Regions from separate parts of the Homo sapiens genome. Here region 1 is linked to region 2. Evidence: fine-mapped expression QTL. A gene starts in region 2. The other region holds a variant in brackets. All regions are shown on one strand. Distances are between the middles of the regions. Region 1 holds the start of LOC124901707 (a long non-coding RNA gene). Region 2 holds the start of PTCD1 (pentatricopeptide repeat domain 1).

The links. PIP is the estimated chance that this variant, and not a neighbour inherited with it, causes the effect.
Region 1: its variant is fine-mapped to the expression of PTCD1 in lymphoblastoid cells (CAP, PIP 0.95).

Annotation. Positions count from the first base shown.
Region 1 is chr7:99,410,170-99,418,494 of GRCh38, reverse strand. It overlaps BUD31 (BUD31 spliceosome associated protein), which reads right to left. Exons shown (of 6, transcript NM_003910.4): 3 at 7,309-7,431; 4 at 2,235-2,357; 5 at 900-1,066. The coding sequence starts at 7,402. It overlaps ATP5MF-PTCD1 (ATP5MF-PTCD1 readthrough), which reads left to right. Exons shown (of 9, transcript NM_001198879.2): 9 at 1-1,756. It overlaps PTCD1 (pentatricopeptide repeat domain 1), which reads left to right. Exons shown (of 8, transcript NM_015545.4): 8 at 1-1,756. It overlaps LOC124901707 (a long non-coding RNA gene), which reads right to left and starts at 6,550. Exons shown (of 2, transcript XR_007060451.1): 1 at 6,512-6,550; 2 at 6,200-6,306. It also overlaps LOC124901841. RefSeq lists a silencer at 2,813-2,862. The variant T/AT (reference allele first, on the strand shown) is at 4,349.
Region 2 is chr7:99,435,089-99,443,413 of GRCh38, reverse strand. PTCD1 (pentatricopeptide repeat domain 1) reads left to right here and starts at 4,616. Exons shown (of 8, transcript NM_015545.4): 1 at 4,616-4,722; 2 at 8,146-8,325. The coding sequence starts at 8,172. ATP5MF-PTCD1 (ATP5MF-PTCD1 readthrough) reads left to right here. Exons shown (of 9, transcript NM_001198879.2): 3 at 8,146-8,325. CPSF4 (cleavage and polyadenylation specific factor 4) reads right to left here and starts at 4,471. Exons shown (of 8, transcript NM_006693.4): 1 at 4,229-4,471. The coding sequence starts at 4,331. It also overlaps the pseudogene LOC100131859. RefSeq lists silencers at 4,177-4,476, 7,975-8,122 and enhancers at 4,737-5,026, 6,323-6,848.

The DNA of each region.
Region 1 (8,325 bases), 25 kb after region 2:
GAGCTGGGGAAAAGAAGGCCAGGCTGGCAGATGGGCGGTGGGGCCAACAACTGTGCTGAGGGGCTGCACTGAGCGGCCACTGCTGTGACTCTGCCTCGGGCCACAGCTGCCTTTCAGAGGGGCTTGGAACCGGATGGAGCTCAGCTCCTGTCCCTCAGCACCACTCCTGAGGCGCCTGGCCTAGGAGTGGTACTTGGAACAGAAAGTTCTGAAAGAAGAAACACAGTGGGCTGGGCGCAGTAGCTCATGCCTGTAATCCCGGCACTTTGGGAGGCTGAGGCGGGTGGATCACCTGAGGTCGGGAGTTCGAGACCAGCCTGAGCAACATTGAGAAACCCCGTCTCTACTAAAAATACAAAATTAGCCAGGCGTGGTGGTGCATGCCTGTAGTCCCAGCTACTCAGGAGGATGAGGCAGGAGAACCGCTTGAACCCGGGAGGTGGAGGTTGCAGTGAGCCAAGATGGCATCACTGCACTCCAGCCTGGGCGACAAAGCAAGACTCCGTCTTGGGGGGGCGGGAAAGATAGTGATGGTAATGTTAAAGTATCACTGTGAGGACTGAAAGGGACAGGAACTCACTGGTTGTCCTTCCCTGATGTCACCCTGCCACCACCTTGGGATTAGGGCTCCCCACCACCATTTCCTAAGTGAGGAAAGGGGTTCAGTAATTTGCCCAAAAGTGGAGTTGAGATTGACCCCAGACCTAACAAACACACAGCCACACGCTGCCTCACATGGATTCCTGAATACAGGGACCCACTCCCACGAGGGAGAGCCAGCAGGACATCCAGGGACAAAACGACATTCCAGCCCAACCAAATAACATAAGATCCCTTGCAGTCGACTAAGGCAGAATTTTGAGCTGAAAACAACACCAAGCTTGAGTGTCAGACATTACCACTTCCAGCTTGCTTTTGGGCACGCGGCAGATGCAGTTCGTCCCGAAGTTGGTGTCCCGTGTCTGAATGCACCGCAGGCAGCACAAGTTCTCATATCCTTGCTTTTTCCATTTTGCAATCAGGTTTTTGTCTGCATAGCCTTCTTTAATACAATATTCATAGAGTTCTGTCAAAAAGATGGGGAAAGAGCATCAGGCCATGGTCTAAAAACCTTCCCCACCCTTGATCAAAAAAAGCATTCAGGCCGGGTGCAGTGGCTCACACCTGTAATCCCAGCACTTTGGGAGGCCGAGGCAGGCGGATCACCTGAGGTCAGGAGTTCAGGACCAGCCCGGCCAACATGGTAAAACCCCGTCTCTACTAAAAATACAAAAATTACTCGGGCGTGGTAGCAGCTGTAATCCCAGCTACTTAGGAGGCTGAGGCAGGAGAATCACTTGAACCCAGGAGGCGGAGGTTGTAGTGACCTGAGGTCGTGCCACTGGACTCCAGCCTGGGTGACAGCGAAACTCCATCTCAAAAAAAAAAAGGCATTCAGTATTGCAACGGGACAGTCCTTGGAGGAGGAACAAAAAAAAAAAGTACTTAGGCCAGGCAAGGTGCCTCACACCTGTAATCCCAGCACTTTTGGAAGCCAACGCCAGAGGATCATTTGAGTTAAGAAACCAGCCTGGGCCAAGGGCCCATCTCCACAAAAAATTTAAAAATTAGCTGGGTGTGGTGGTGCACACCTGTAGTCACAGCTACTCAGGAGGTTGAGGTGAGAGGATCCCTTGAGCCCAGAAGGTTGAGGCTGCAGTGAGCCATCATTGCACCACTGCACTCCAGCCTGTGGAACAGAGCAAGACCCTGTTTCAAAAAAAAAAAAAAAAAAAAAGCCAAGAGCGGTGGACCACGCCTATAATTCCAGCACTTTGGGAGACCGAGTCGGGTGAATCACCTGAGGTCAGGAGTTCAAGATCAGCCTGACCAATATGGTGAAACCCCATCTTTACTAAAAATACAAAAATTGGCCAGGTGTGGTGGCAGGTGCCTGTAATCCCAGCTACTTGGGAGCTGAGACAGGAGAATCGCTTGAACCCAGGAAGTGGAGCTTGCAGTGAGCCAAGATTGCGCCACTGCACTCCAGCCTGGGTGACAGAGTGAGACTCCATCTCAAAACAAACAAACAAAAAACAAACACACACACAAAACTCAGCCAACGTTGGCTCCCCCTAATTTTCGTGGTAAGAAAAACCATGACTTGCACAGGTTGCGAGAATAAGGATTGTGGTTAGTTCAGTAACTCCAAAAGTGACGCGAGCTTCAAAGTCCAAGAGAGACTGACTAATTACCTCTGCTGATGGCTTTCCGCTTGTAAAAGAGGTCGAAGATGTAGCGGGTTTTCTGGTGGTGGATCCTGAAGATGGGCCACAGAGATTCCACTTTCCTCTTTCCCTCATGCGGTTCTGTTTCAGCTGGGGAGAAACAAAGAGTGTGTTTGGGGGAATAGGGTCGGTCTGCGCAGGATTTTCTTTTTGTAAGTAACTACTGATAATGAATAAATACCACTTTATACCCACTAGGATGGCTGTGGGTGGCAAGCCACCCAGGTGCCGAGGCAAGAAACCGAGGGCACGAGCTGTTCTAGTATAATAAAATAAATAAAATAAGAATAGTTATACTAGATATAGATCTTAGATATGATTATATATGAATATCATTAATCCTTAGTTTGTAGCAATTACTCTTTATTCCAATATTATAATAATCCTCACTCGACAATCATAACCTAGGAAACACCAGGCTATACAGAGATGGGAGCTGAGGGGACATAGTGAGAACTGACCAGAAAACGAGTGCAAGCCTTCTGTTATGCCCGGACAGGGCCACCAGAGGGCTCCTTGGTCTAGCGGTAACGCCAGCATCTGGGAAGATGCCCGTTGCCAAGCGGACCTTGGTCTAGCAGTAGCGTTAGTGTCAAGGAAAAACACCCGCTACTTAGCAGACCGGGAAAGGGAATCTCCCTTTCCCCGGGGGAGTTTAGAGAAGACTCTACTCCTCCACCTCTTGTGGAGGGCCTGACATCAGTCAGGCCCGCCCGCAGTTATCCAGAGGCCTAACTATCTCCCTGTGATGCTGTGCTTTGGTGGTCACGCTCCTAGTCCGCCTTCATGTTCCATCCTGTACACCTGGCTCTGCCTTTTAGATAACAATAGCAAATTAGTGAAAGTACTAAAAGTCTCTGATAAGCAGAAATAATGGCATAAGCTGTCTCTCTCTCTCTGCCTTGGTGCCAGGCAGGCAAGGGCCCGCTTTCCAGTGGACACGTGACCCATGTGGCCTTACCTATCATTGGAGATGGTTCACACTGCTTATCCTGCCCCTTTGTCTTGTATCCAATAAATATCAGTGCAGCCTGGCATTTGGGGCCACTACCGGTCTCCGCGTCTTGGTGGGATTCCCAGGCTCAGCTGTCTTTTATCTCTTTGTCTTGTGTCTTTATTTCTACGCTCTCTCGTCTCCACACACGGGGAGAAACCCACCGACCCTGTGGGGCTGGACCCTACAGATGACTATAATCAAAATTATGGCACAATAACAAGTGTTGGGAAGGATGTGGAGAAATTGGAACTCTCCTACGTTCCTGGTGGGAATGTAAAATGGTGGAGCCACTGCAGAAGAGTTAGGTGGCTCCTCAAGAAGTTAAACAGGGCTGGCCGGAATCGGTGGCTCACACCTGTAATCCCAGCACTTTGGGAGGCTGAGGTGGGCAGGTCACTTGAGGTCAGGAGTCTGAGACCAGCTTGGTCAACATGGTGAAACCCCATCTCTACTAAAAATACAAAAGAATTAGCAGGGCATGGTGGCGCATGCCTGTAATCCCACCTACTTGGGAGGCTGAGGTGGGAGAATCGTTTGAACCCAGAGGCGGAGGATGCAGTGAGCTGAGATCACACCACTGCACTCCAGCCTAGGCAACAAAGCAAGACTCCCGTCTCAAAAAAAGAAAAAAAAGGGAATGAAGTAAGTACTGATATATTCTACAACACAGATGAACCTTGAAACATCAAACTAACTGTGGCAATGGTCGTACAACTTTGTGAATATACTAAAAACCCCTTAATTGGATAATTTAACAGGTTCACTTTTACAGTATATGATTAATATCTCAATAAAGCTGTTATTTAAAAACAGAATAAGCCGCCGGGCATTTTGGGAGGCCAAGGTGGGCGGACCACGAGGTCAGGAGATCGAGATCAGCCTGACCAACGTGGTGAAACCCCATCACTACTAAAAATTAAAAAATTAGCCGGGCGTGGTAGTGCACGCTTGTAATCCCAGCTTCTCAAGAGGCTGAGGCAGGAGAATTGCCTGAACTCGGGAGGTACAGGTTGCAGTGAGCCAAGATCGCACCACTGCACTCCAGCGTGGGCAACAGTGTGAGATTCCGTCTCAAAAAAAAAAA[T/AT]AAAAAAATAAAAAATAAGCTAAGTAATTTAAACATAATTGTTTTAAATTAAAAATGTCTATTTTTGGATCCTTTTGTAATTCATGAGTGTGCTTGGGTGTTCACATCCATGTGTGAGACATGCCACTCTCAAACCTTGTCACAACGTTGGCACATTACCCATGTGACAAGAAAAAAAGTCTTTTTAATTACAGAATTAGAAAACATAGATTTTTAAAGACATTTAATGGTAACTTCTGTTAAAAGGTTGGTCCCGGCTGGGCACAGTGGCTCACGCCTGTAATCCCAGCACTTTTGGAGGCCGAGGTGGGTGGATCACTTGAGGTCAGGAGTTCGAGAACACCCTGGCCAACAGGGCAAAACACTGTCTCTACTGAAAATACAAAAATTATCTGGGCATGGTGGCACATGCCTGTAATCCCAGTTACTCGGGAGGCTGAGGCACGAGAAGTGCTTGAACCTGGGAAGCAGAGGTTGCAGTTAGCTGACATTGTGCCACTGCACTCCAGCCTGGATGACAGATGACCCTGTCTCAAAAAAAAACAAAACAAAACAAACAAAAAAAAGCCAAAAAACCAACCTTGGTCCCTATGCTTTCAGATCTATTTCTACAGCGTAATAATTAATCAAGATAATTCTAGGCCCACAGATGGGCATCCTAATCATCTTGAAGGCACTTCTAATTTCATCTCCCAGCCAAAGTCCTTTAGGGCTGAGGAAAAGCTAAATAAACTAGACCAGTCTACAGGTTCTGAGGGAAGTAGCCACAGCAGAAGCTGCTCCTTCAACACACGCAGGATCAGGTGGCACTCATACTTGCCGCAAGGCAGTTCTCTCTCTCTCAGCAGTCACAAGTTCATCTTTGTCTATGACCTCCTCAGTTTTTAGGGAAGAACAGAAGGGCGAAGAGTGGTCAAGAAGACTATCCCTCCCTGTCTCCAGCTTTTAAGCCATTCTATTACCTAGGAATTACAATTCAGCTCAACAAACAGAATGCTGTGATCCAAGCAGAAAAGCAGGTAGTAAAGATTCAGCAGGTACACATGTTAAGACGTGACTTGCTCCTCCTTGGCCTCTGCCATGATGGTGAGGCCTCTCCAACCACATGGAACGGTAAGTCCATTAGATCTCGTTCTTTCGTAAATTGCCCAGTCTCAGGTATGTCTATCAGTAGCGTGAAAATGGACTAACACACCCCCATCTCTACAAAAAATTAGCCAAGCGTTGGTCGGGCGCGGTGGCTCATGCTTGTAATCCTAGCACTTTGGGAGCCTGAGGCGGGTGGATCACAAGGTCAGGCGATCGAGACCATCCTGGCTAACATGGTGAAACCCCGTCTCTACTAAAAATACAAAAAAAAAAAAAAAATTAGCTGGGCATGGTGGCGGGCGCCTGTAGTCCCAGCTACTCCAGAGGCTGAGGCAGGAGAATGGTGTGGACCTGGGAGGCGGAGCTTGCAGTGAGCGGAGATCGCGCCACTGCACTCCAGCCTGGGTGACAGAGCGAGACTCCGTCTCAAAAAAAAAAAAAAGAAAAAAAAGAAAAGAAAACTTAGCCAAGCGTGGCAGTGGATGCCTGTAGTCCCAGCTGCCTGGGAGACTGAGGTGGGAGGAACACCTGAGCCTGGGAGGTGGAGGCTTCAGTGAGCTGTGATTGAACCACTGCACTCCAGCCTGGGCAACAAAGTGAGACCTTGTCTCAAAACAAAAACAAAAAGAAAACAGAACAAAGAATACTTCTGTCTGGAGGTAAAGAATATCTAAACACAAAGTAGGGTTCCTCCTTCCCTCAAAAGTCACCCTTTAGAAGATGAAGTTAATTTACTTTCAAGGACTTGCAAAATCTCTTCTATTCCAGCATGCTCCCATTTCCTTTATTTTGATAAAGAGCTGTTTCGGGAAGACATCTCTCAGCCCAAAATGACCGTGATTACTGCAATAGGCCCATCCAAATCTAAACTGCAAAACAAGTACTGAGTATTTAATAGAAGTTATCTGGTACGAACAGTTTTTTTAAAAAGGGGCAAAGTAATTTAACATTGATTTAATTTAGTAATTACTGCTGGAGGTACGACCTCATAATAACCATGATTAGGTTAGTTACAAGCAAGCATTTCAAAAGCTACTTTAAAAAGTAACTTCAGCTGGGTGTAGTGGCTCATACCTGTAATCCCATCACTTTGGGAGGCCGAGGTGGGTGGATCACTTGAGGCCAGGAGTTCGAGACCAGCCTGGCCAACATGGAGAAACCCATCTCTACTAAAAATACAAAAATTAGCCGGGCATGGTGGCGCATGCCTGTAATCCAAATTACTCGAGAGGCTGAGAGGCAGGAAAATCACTTGAACACGGGAGGCAGAGGTTGCAGTGAGCCGAGATCACGCCACTGCACTGCAGCCTGGAAGACAGAGCAAGACTCCAACTCAAAAAATAAAAATAAAAAAGTCAATTGGTAAGTGGCCACACTGTGATCATATAAGGCCAACAGATGCTTGTGGCTTCAGATAAAATTTCCAAAGACAGCATAGGACACGGGTTCACAAAGCAGGATCACACGCCATTTACAAGGAAGTGACAGAAAACAGATGCGGCAAAGACTAATCGATGATACTGAAAAGGAATAGCACTTCCAAGTAAATATATTTTGTATGATTTTAAATATATATCTAACCAAAATAGTAAATAACTATAGGTAGACTATTTGATCTATATTTCATAACCTTTTATATTCGAGTTGGCAAAAACAAAAACAAAAAAAAACACCTTTTCTGAGGACCTTTTCATTAATGTTATCTTATTTTCGGGCACTTACAGTATTTCCCCAAGTTCATAAGCAAACACAACATGTCAGTGTTAGTAGACCACTCTCTTTTTATATTTGCATTTATGCCTGTCCCCTGGGGGCATCTAAGCCTGTGACCCTTGGACCCAGCCCACCCAGACAGGAACTCCCCTACTCACCTTCTCTCATCTTTTGATCTAATTCATCCAGTGTTGGCTCAATCAACTCCCAGCCATCTGGGGGTGCTTTCCGGCTTCTTTTGACTTTAGGCATTTTCCTTCCACAGGATAATCTGCAAAGATCTGGGGGAAAAAAATGAATTGGTTTCTGAGTCTCAAATCCCCAAAGGCCTTTGCCAGCCATTATTTCGGTACAGGCTGACTTCCTTGAGTCAGCATAGGGTCACAGCTATGGGACAGGGCTCAGCACCCAGACTGTGTTCAAATCCTGGCTCTGCTACTTACCCGCTGTGATCTTCAGAAAGGTACTTAACCTTCCTAAGCCTCTGTTTCCTCATCTGTAAAATGGGGATAATGGAAGCTACCTTATGTGGTCATTGCAAAGACTTCATTAGAATTGTATCTATCATGCCTGGTGTATAATGTGTGCCTAAGAGACATTTGCTGTTGTCATTAGCTAACTTCAACTAAAAGCTTAACCCTATACTGGATGTTGGGAACACAGAACAAAAGTTAAGCCTTTGCCCCTTAGAAGGTGACATTTTAGCAAAGAGACAGACAAGAGAAAAAGCAATTACAATAGAGTATAAGGAGGGCTGTGACTCGGGGAGCCATGGGGGTGAGTATTTAAAAAGGCAAAGATGGAAGGTCAGGCACGGTGGCTCATGCCTGTAATTCTGGTCTTGGCCAGCACCTTGGGAGGCTGAGATGGGAGGATCACTTGAGCCCAGGAATTTGAGACCAGTCTGAGCAATGAGGTGAAACCCTATCTCTACCAAAAAAAAAAAAAAATCAAAAAAATTAACTGAGCATGGTGGTGGGTGCCTGTGGTCTGAGCTACACGGAAGGCTGAGGCAAGAGGATCACTTGAGCCCAGGAGGTTGAAAGTCTTCAGTTAGCCATGTTCACACTACTGCACTCCAGCCTAAGTGACGGAGTGAGACCATGTCTCAATAACAAACAAAACAAAACAAAACATAAAATAAAAAGGGAAAGATGACTGTAAAATCAAAGTAC
Region 2 (8,325 bases):
GGAATAAAGCAAGATCTTATCCACAGACTCCAGGCATATCTTGAAGAACATGCTGAAGAGGAGGCAAATGAAGATGTACTAGGAGATGAAACAGAAGAAGAAAAAAACCCCTTGTCAAATAGGAAGAACCCCCTGAAAAAAACTGTTGATGTGGCAGCAGAGAAGAAAGTGGTGAAAATTACATCTGAAATACCACAGGCTGAGAGAATGCAGAAGAGGGCCGAACAATTCAGTGTACCTGTGAGCTTGGAGAGTAAGAAAGCTGCTCAGGCAGCTAGGTTTGGGATTTCTTCAGTTCCAACAAAAGTCTGTCATCTGAACACACCTATGGTTAACTTGGATAAGCCGAAGGAAAGAGCTCAAAGATTTGGTTTGAATGTCTCTTCAATTTCCAGAAAGTCTGAAGATGATAAGAAACTGAAAAAGAGGAAGGAGCGATTTGGGATTGTCACAAGTTCAGCTGGAACTGGAACCACAGAGGATACAGAGGCAAAGAAGAGGAAAAGAGCAGAGCGCTTTGGCATTGCCTGATGAAAGGTTCTTGATACTTTCTGTTCTCCAGTGTTTTCCACTTCTCTCATTCTTCTTGGTCACATATATACTAAATGCAGTCTTGCCTTGCAATGAGGGAGCAGGTACCCCAGGTAAAACTGTGAACTGCCGCGGCAGTTTGACTTATTGCTGTTTCAGCTTTAAGGTTGTTGTGTTTTTGTTTTTGATTATATTGCTTGTTTTTTGTTTTTTTTTTTTTTTTTTTTGAGACGGAGTCTCGCTGTTGCCCAGGCTGGAGTGCAGTGGTGTGATCTCGGCTCACTGCAGGCTCTGCCCCACCGGGGTTCACACCATTCTCCTGCCTCAGCCTCCCGAGTAGCTGGGACTACAGGCACCCGCCACCTTGCCCAGCTAATTTTTTGTATTTTTAGTAGAGACGGGGTTTCACCGTGTTAGCCAGGATGGTCTCGATCTCCTGACCTCGTGATCCGCCCGCCTCGGCCTCCCAAAGTGCTGGGATTACAGGTGTGAGCCACAACGCCCGGCCGATTATGTTGCTTGTTAATAAAAAAGAAAAGAAAAGAAAAAAAAAGCACAGCCTTTCATTCCCACAGTCGGAGTGTGCTGGAATTCAGTGGGCTCCAGGGACCAGCTGTTCTGATGAGTCCAGGAATTCACCAGCCCCAGCTGCCAGACTAAACTGACCTTGGCATCAGAAACAGTTTCCTCTACAAGTAACCATTTTAGAATTGCTGAAAAACCAATGACAGCATCTCTGAAGCCCACTTAACATGCCTCCCCTTGCTAAATCACAAAAGATTCCTTGGCTTCTTGGAAGCAAGCAGATTTTGCTAGGACACAGCTGAGGTTATAGAACTTATGGCTGTCACAGGGAGGTCACTCCATTTGCATCTCAAAAAGTCTGAAAGTGGCCAGGTGCGGTGACTCACGTCTGTAATCCTAGCACTTTGGGAGGCTGAGGCGGGTGGATCACTTGACATCAGGAGTTCAAGACCAGCCTGGCCAATATGGTGAAACCCCATCTCTACTAAAAATGCAAAAATTAGTCAGACATGGTGGCACGTGCCTGTAATCCCAGCTACCTGGGAGGCTGAGGCAGGAGAATCACTTGAACCCAGAGGCAGAGGTTGCAGTGAGCCAAGATCGCGTCACTGTGCTCCAGCCTGGGTAACAGAGCAAGACTCTGTCTCAAAAAAAAAGAAAAAAAAAATTCTGAAAGTACTTCTGGTCTCTCTCTTTAGAGGTTAGAGTTGCTTCTGCTCAGAAATACACAGTTCTGGGAACTGAGTCTCATGTGGATAGGATGAGTATGCCTTATGGGCAAAGTGACAGTTCTTCCCAAAACTCAGATGGGGATGAAGAGGAGGGATGGGTGAGGAAGGGCTGTGGCCTCACTAGGCTTTAACTGAACAGGATATGGACAAGCAGCGAGTGTGGAGGGTGCCTACCGACTCTGAAGCCCTGGCTGGAGCAACACCCATGGCTAGGTGTGTCCCGGGCCTCAGGAACAGGTATGTGGGCCCCTCGCCACTGTACCTCCCCTCACAGGCTTGTGGATGTGTCAGATGGCAGAAGGGTGGGAGGAAAAGAGCTGCCCTGCGTGGGTGGTTCCATGGTCTCAAGCTAGTGCCATCAAGACAGGAAAAGGCCGGCTGGGCACAGTGGCTTATGCCCGTAATCCCAGCACTTTGGGAGGCCGAGGCAGGTGGATCATTTAAGGTCAGGAGTTCAAGACCAGCCTGGCCAACATGGTGAAACCTCATCTCTACTAAAAATACAAAAATTAGTTGGGCGTGGTGGTGGGCGCCTATAATCCCAGCTACTCAGGAGGCCAAGGCAGCAGAACTGCTTGAACCTGGGAGGTGGAGGTTGCAGTGAGCCGAGATCGCACCATTGCACTCCAGCCTGGGTGACAAAAGCAAAACTCTGTCTCAAAAAAAAAAAAAAAAAAAAGACAGGAAAAGGCCACATGTGCAGGGATGATCACAAGAGTCGAGGGGTAGGTAAGAGGGGGTGTGTGTGTGTGAATTTGAGCAGCTGCTTTTTAGGGAGTGTACAGTGGTGATGGTGTTTGTGCCTGTGTCAAATAGGGTGGTCTGATGATGTCTCCTTATAAGCACTATCTTGTCTTCTTGAAGACTTAATTAATTTCCAATGAAACTATCTTGTACAGAACTATCACCATGTAAAGTTGTGGGACAGGCAGGAAAAAAAAAAAAAAAAAAATATATATATATATATATATGCCAGGTGCAGTGGCTCATGCCTATAATCCCAGTACTTCCGAAGGCCGAGGTAAAAGGATCACTTGAGCCCAGGAGTTCAAGACCAACCCTGGGAAACATGATGAAATAGTGTCTCTACCAAGAAATACACACAAAAAAATTTGCCAGGCGTGTTGGTGCATGCCTGTGGTCCCAGCTACTTGGGAGACTGAGGTGGGAGGATTGCTGGAGCCTGGGAAGTCGAGGCTGCATTGAGCCATGATTGCGTCACTGCACCCAGCCTGGGCGACAGAGGGGCCCCTGTCTCAAAAGCAAACAAACAACAACAACAAAAACACATAAAGGGACAGACTCAGAGGTCACATGTGCATGAGAAGGTGTGACCGCCTGAGGGGAGTGAGGCTGCTGGGAGCGGTGGGAGACCCCGCTGGTAGTTGTGGGCGACAGCACACAACACTGGAGAGCTTGCCCGCCTCTGCTATGCACTGAGTGATTGTCAGCAAGTCCCTTCCCCCGCTTGGGTCTCAGTTTCCCCATCTGTGGATTGAACTCAGTGACTTCCACAAGCCCCCAAACTTTAAGGTTATAGCATTAGATTTCAAGTATGTCCAGATAGGAAAGAAGACACAAAGAAAACTACTGGTTTCTTTTAAAGTACAAGATATCCCACCGAGTAGGAGGTGGGAAGCCAGGAGCCACCATATGAAGGGGAGCAGTGAAGGGAGTTCAGGCCAAGGGTCCACACCAGCTGCTGGGTGTGATGAATAACTCAGAGTTGGGGTCCAGAAAAAAGTAGGGACGGGCCAAAAACTAGGGATGAGCTCCCAGGAGAGTGAGTCCTAGAAGGGAGTTTGAGAGTCTAGCTGGGGTCTCCTACAGAAAGGTGGTCCTTCCCTCAGCACATCTCCTCCAACCGCCTAGTTTTGATGAAATCAAGAAGAGACGCTCAACGTAGCGGGTGTGATATCCTAGTACTCTCCTGCAGTTGGGAGAGTGTTGAGGGAGAGTTCCAATCCAGGATAACCCACCCTTATTCAAGAATTAAGCGAACAGACAAGGTCTACCCTCCTACAGATTACCTTTGAACAGCCGCAGAGGGCCAAAGATCCGAGGCAGTGAACTCCTGAGTCCGAGTGAGGGTAAAAGGAGTCCCCAGACGGTGGAAATGGGGGCCTGGGAGTCAGGAGTCCTGAAACCAAGGGGAGCGTCCCGGGATCCAGAAGAGGAGGTCTCAGGATGGAGTGGGAAGAGTCTCGGGACCACAGATGAGGGAGTTCGGTAACTAAAGGGGAGGATCCCAGGACCCGGAGGAGGTGGGAGGGACTCTCAAGACCTAGAGGGAGGAGTCCTGCGACCAAAGGGGAGGGGTCCCAGGATCCAGAGGAAGCCGGGGGAGGTCTCAGGACCGAGGCGAGGGAGTCCCGGGATCACAGAGGAGCGGGTCCCGGGTTCGAGTCGCTCTTGCCCTCCCGCCCGGGCCCCGCGCTCACTGTCCATGCCGGGGAAGGGCAGCGGCTGCGCCCCCAGCTGCTGCTCCACCGCGATCTCCAAGTCAAACTTGATGTGGTCCACGCTGGCGATGATTTCCTGCATGGCGGCGGCGGCGGCCCCACCGGCCCGGCTCCCCCTCGGTCTCCTGCAGCCTTCTCGCCTTTACCCGCCGCCGGCCCCGCCGCACACACTCCTCCTTCGCTTCGCCTCGCCGCCGCCGCCGCCGCCGCCCGAGGGATGCCGGGAGCGCCCGGAGCCCGCGCCGGCCCTTGCGCCTGTCCAGGCACTGCCAATCGAGACTCCGCCGTTCCGCTAGTCCCAGCTAGCCGCCAGCCGAACACCGGCCTCGCCAGAAACCTGAAACCAGCCGCGTGAGTCGGCGACGCGGATTGCGCCTGCGCGCTTGGGGAGAGGGGGACCCGAGGAAGAGACTGGTTCGCCGCGGGGACCGGGCAGGGCTCCCCGTCGGAGTGCACTGCGCCGGACACTTCAAGTGAGTTCCTGTGTGATCCTCGCAGGAGCCCCGGGACCCGGGCCAAGACACGCCAGAGGGGAAGGAAGTGCCCGAGCCGGGATTGGAGCCGGGGGCGTCTGAGGAGGGAAACTGAGGCTGCAGAAGTCCGTGTGGAGAGGGGTCGGCGTTGGCCTGAGGGTCCGGGTGGGCCTCTGAGGAGGGGCGGGTCTCTCCGAGGAAGGACGGCCGCAGCGTGTCTCTAATTCAGGGTTTTTTCTCGCTCTGTGGCCCAGGCTGGAGTACAGGGGTACGATCATAGCTCACTGCAGTCAACTTCTCAGACTCAAGCGATCCTCCCACCTCAGCCTCCCGAGTAGCTGGAACTACAGACGCTGCACCACCACACTTGGCTAATTTTTAAAATTTTATTTTTAATTTTTGTAGAGACGGCGGGGTTGGGGGGGCGGGTGGCGGGTCTTGCTATGTTGCCCAGGCTGGTCTCGAACTCCTGGCCCCAAGCCCAAAGCGATCCTCCTGCCTGGGCCTCCCAAAGTGCTGGAATTGCAGGCATGAGCCACTATACAGCCTAATTCAGGGTTTTTTTTAACCAGGGTGGGGTAATGAGCTTGTGTAGGAACAAAATGCACCCCTATTTTTCTCTATGTGAAGTATAGCATTTCCTTTCCTGATTGCTGGAGCAGCCTTAGCAGTGCCTGAAACTGTGAGGGTGAGTGTAAATGATAGTTCCAGATAACAGTTTGTGCAGGGCCAGGCATGGTGGCTCACACCTGTAACCTCAGCACTTTGGGAGTCTGAGGCGAGAGGATCACGTGAGGTCAGGAGTTCGAGACCAGCCTGGACAGGATGGCAAAACCCCGTCCCTACTGAAAATATAAAAATTGGCCTGGAGTAGTGGCGCGTTCCTGTAATCCCAGCTACTTGGGAGGCTGAGGCATGAGCATGGCTTAAACCCGGGAGGCAGAGGTTGCATTGAGCCGAGATTGTACCACCCCACTCCAGCCTGGTGACAGAGTGAGACGCAAAAAAACCCAGTTTGTGCAGCAACTACAAGGTGGTATCTTAAGCTGTCACTTACATTTATTACTGCTTTGAAATTATGATAGAGTCGGCCGGGCGCGGTGGCTCACGGCTGTAATCCCAGCACTTCGGGAGGCCGAGGCGGGCGGATCACAAGGTCAAAAGATCCAGACCATCCTGGCCAACATGGTGAAACCCTGTCTCTACTAAAAATACAAAAATTAGCTGGGCTTGGTGGCATGCGTCTGTAGTCCCAGCTCCAGGGGAGGCTGAGGCAGGAGAATCGCTTGAATCCGGGAGGCGGAAATTGCAGTGAGCCGAGGTCACGCCTGAGGACAGAGTGAGAGACTGTCTCAAAAAAAAAAAAAGAAAAGAAAAGAAATTATGATAGGGTCTTGTTATTTCATGCATTGAAAATAAGCATCTATACTAGTATAGCAGAAATTTGTTTTTAAAGCATTTTGATGCCATTTCAATATCATTGCTTTTTGTTTTGTAATTCTGTGTATTGTAATTAATGCACGTAAGGCAGGGCATGGAGGCTTACGCCTGCAATCCCAACACTTTGGGAGGCCAAGGCTGGAGGATTGCTTGAGGCCAGGAGTTCTAGACCAGCCTGGCAACATAGGGAGACTCCATCTCTACAAAAAAATACAAAAAATTAGACAGGTATGGTGGTGTGCACCAGTAGTGCTAGTTAATTGAGAGGCTGAGGTAGGAGGATCACTTGAGCCCAGGAGTTGGAGGTTGCAGTGATTGTGCATTTGCACTCCACTGTGCCATCGCACTCCAGCCTGGGCAACATGAAGACCCCATTCCACAAAAAAGAAAATTACATAAACACCATGCTTGTAAGAAGGAGTGGCAGGGCTTGCCAGATGCAGAATGATAAAGGCCCCCTGCACTAGTTTCACAAAAGGTGCTGGTCAGGACAATCATCAATGCGTTACATGGACCTGAGTTCAAAGCCAGCCCAGCCCAAGCTGGCCAGTCTCACCCACTGCACTGCTGCAGGACCCCAGCAAGTCTCTCCCCTTGCTGGGCCTAGTTTTTTGTTTGTTGTTGTTGTTGTTGTTTTGAGATGGAGTCTTGCTCTGTCGCTCAGGCTGGAGTGCAATGGCGCGATCTTGGCTCACTGCAACCTCTGCCTCCCACGTTCAAGTGATTCTCCTGCCTCAGCCTCCCAAGTAGCTGGGATTACAGGGGCACGCTGTCACGCCCAGCTAATTTTTATATTTTCGGCAGAGATAGGGTTCACCACGTCAGGCTGGTCTCGAACTCCTGACCTGAGGGGATCCACCCACCTTGGCCTCCCAAAGTGCTGGGATTACAGGCGTGAGCCACCGCTCCTGACCTACTGGGCCTAGTTTTTAATCTGTTCAATCTGCCATCACTTGTAAGACTTTTCCAATCGCAACCTTCTAATATAACCAGACTCTAAAATACTTTAGGCTGGGCATGGTGGCTCATTGCTGTAATCCCAGTGCTTTGGGAGGTCGAGGCGAGAGGATTGCTTGAGTCCAGGAGTTCAAGACCAGCCTGGGCACATAGCAAGACCCTGTCTCTACCAAAAAATAAAATTAGCCAGGCATAGTGGCTCACACCTGTAGTTCCAGCTACTCGGGAGGCTGAAATGGGAGGATCGCTTGAGCACAGGAGGGTGGGGCTGCAGTGAGCTATGTCTGACCTGAACCTAGGCTTTCTAACCTCTGGGCCCATACTTCTTATTTTATTTATTATTATTATTTTTTTTTTTTTCTGAGACAGAGTCTCACTGTCACTCAGGCTGGAGTGCAGTGGCGCGATCTCAGCTCACTGCAAGCTCCGTCTCCTGGGTTCAAGCGATTCTCCTACCTCAGTCTCCTCAGTAGCTGGGATTAGACGTGTAGCACCACACCCAGCTCATGTTTTTTGTATTTTTAGTAGAGATGGGGTGTCGCCAGGCTGGTCTTGAACTGATCTGCCCGCCTCGGCCTCCCAAAGTGCTGGGAGTGCAGGCATGAGCCACCGCCCCTGGCCTGTTCTTTTTCTTTCTTTCTTTTCTTTTTTTTTTCGAGACAGAGTCTCACTCTGTCACCCAGGTTGGAGTATGGTGGCGCAATCTCAGCTCACTGCAAGCTCCATCTCCCAGGTTCAGGTGATTCTCCTGCCTCAGCCTCCTGAGTAGCTGGGATTACAGGCGCACAGCACCAAGCCTGGCTAATTTTTGTATTTTTCATAGAGACGGGGTTTCACCATGTTGTCCAGGCTGGTCTCAAACTCCTGACCTCAAGTGATATGCCAGCCTCGACCTCCCAAAGTGCTGGGATTACAGGCATGAGCCACCGCGCCTGGCCTGGGCCCATACTTGTAACCACTTCTTTCTTTCTGCCTTTTGTTACTAGGAACTGAGTTGACTCTCTTATTTTTCCTGATATATTCCAGGCCCTGGAGGGACAGGAAAGCCAGAAATGGACTTCGTGAGACTCGCTCGACTGTTCGCCAGGGCCCGCCCCATGGGACTGTTCATCCTGCAACACCTGGACCCCTGTAGAGCCAGGTGGGCAGGAGGCAGGGAGGGGCTGATGCGGCCAATGTGGGCGCCCTTCAGCAGCTCCTCCTCTC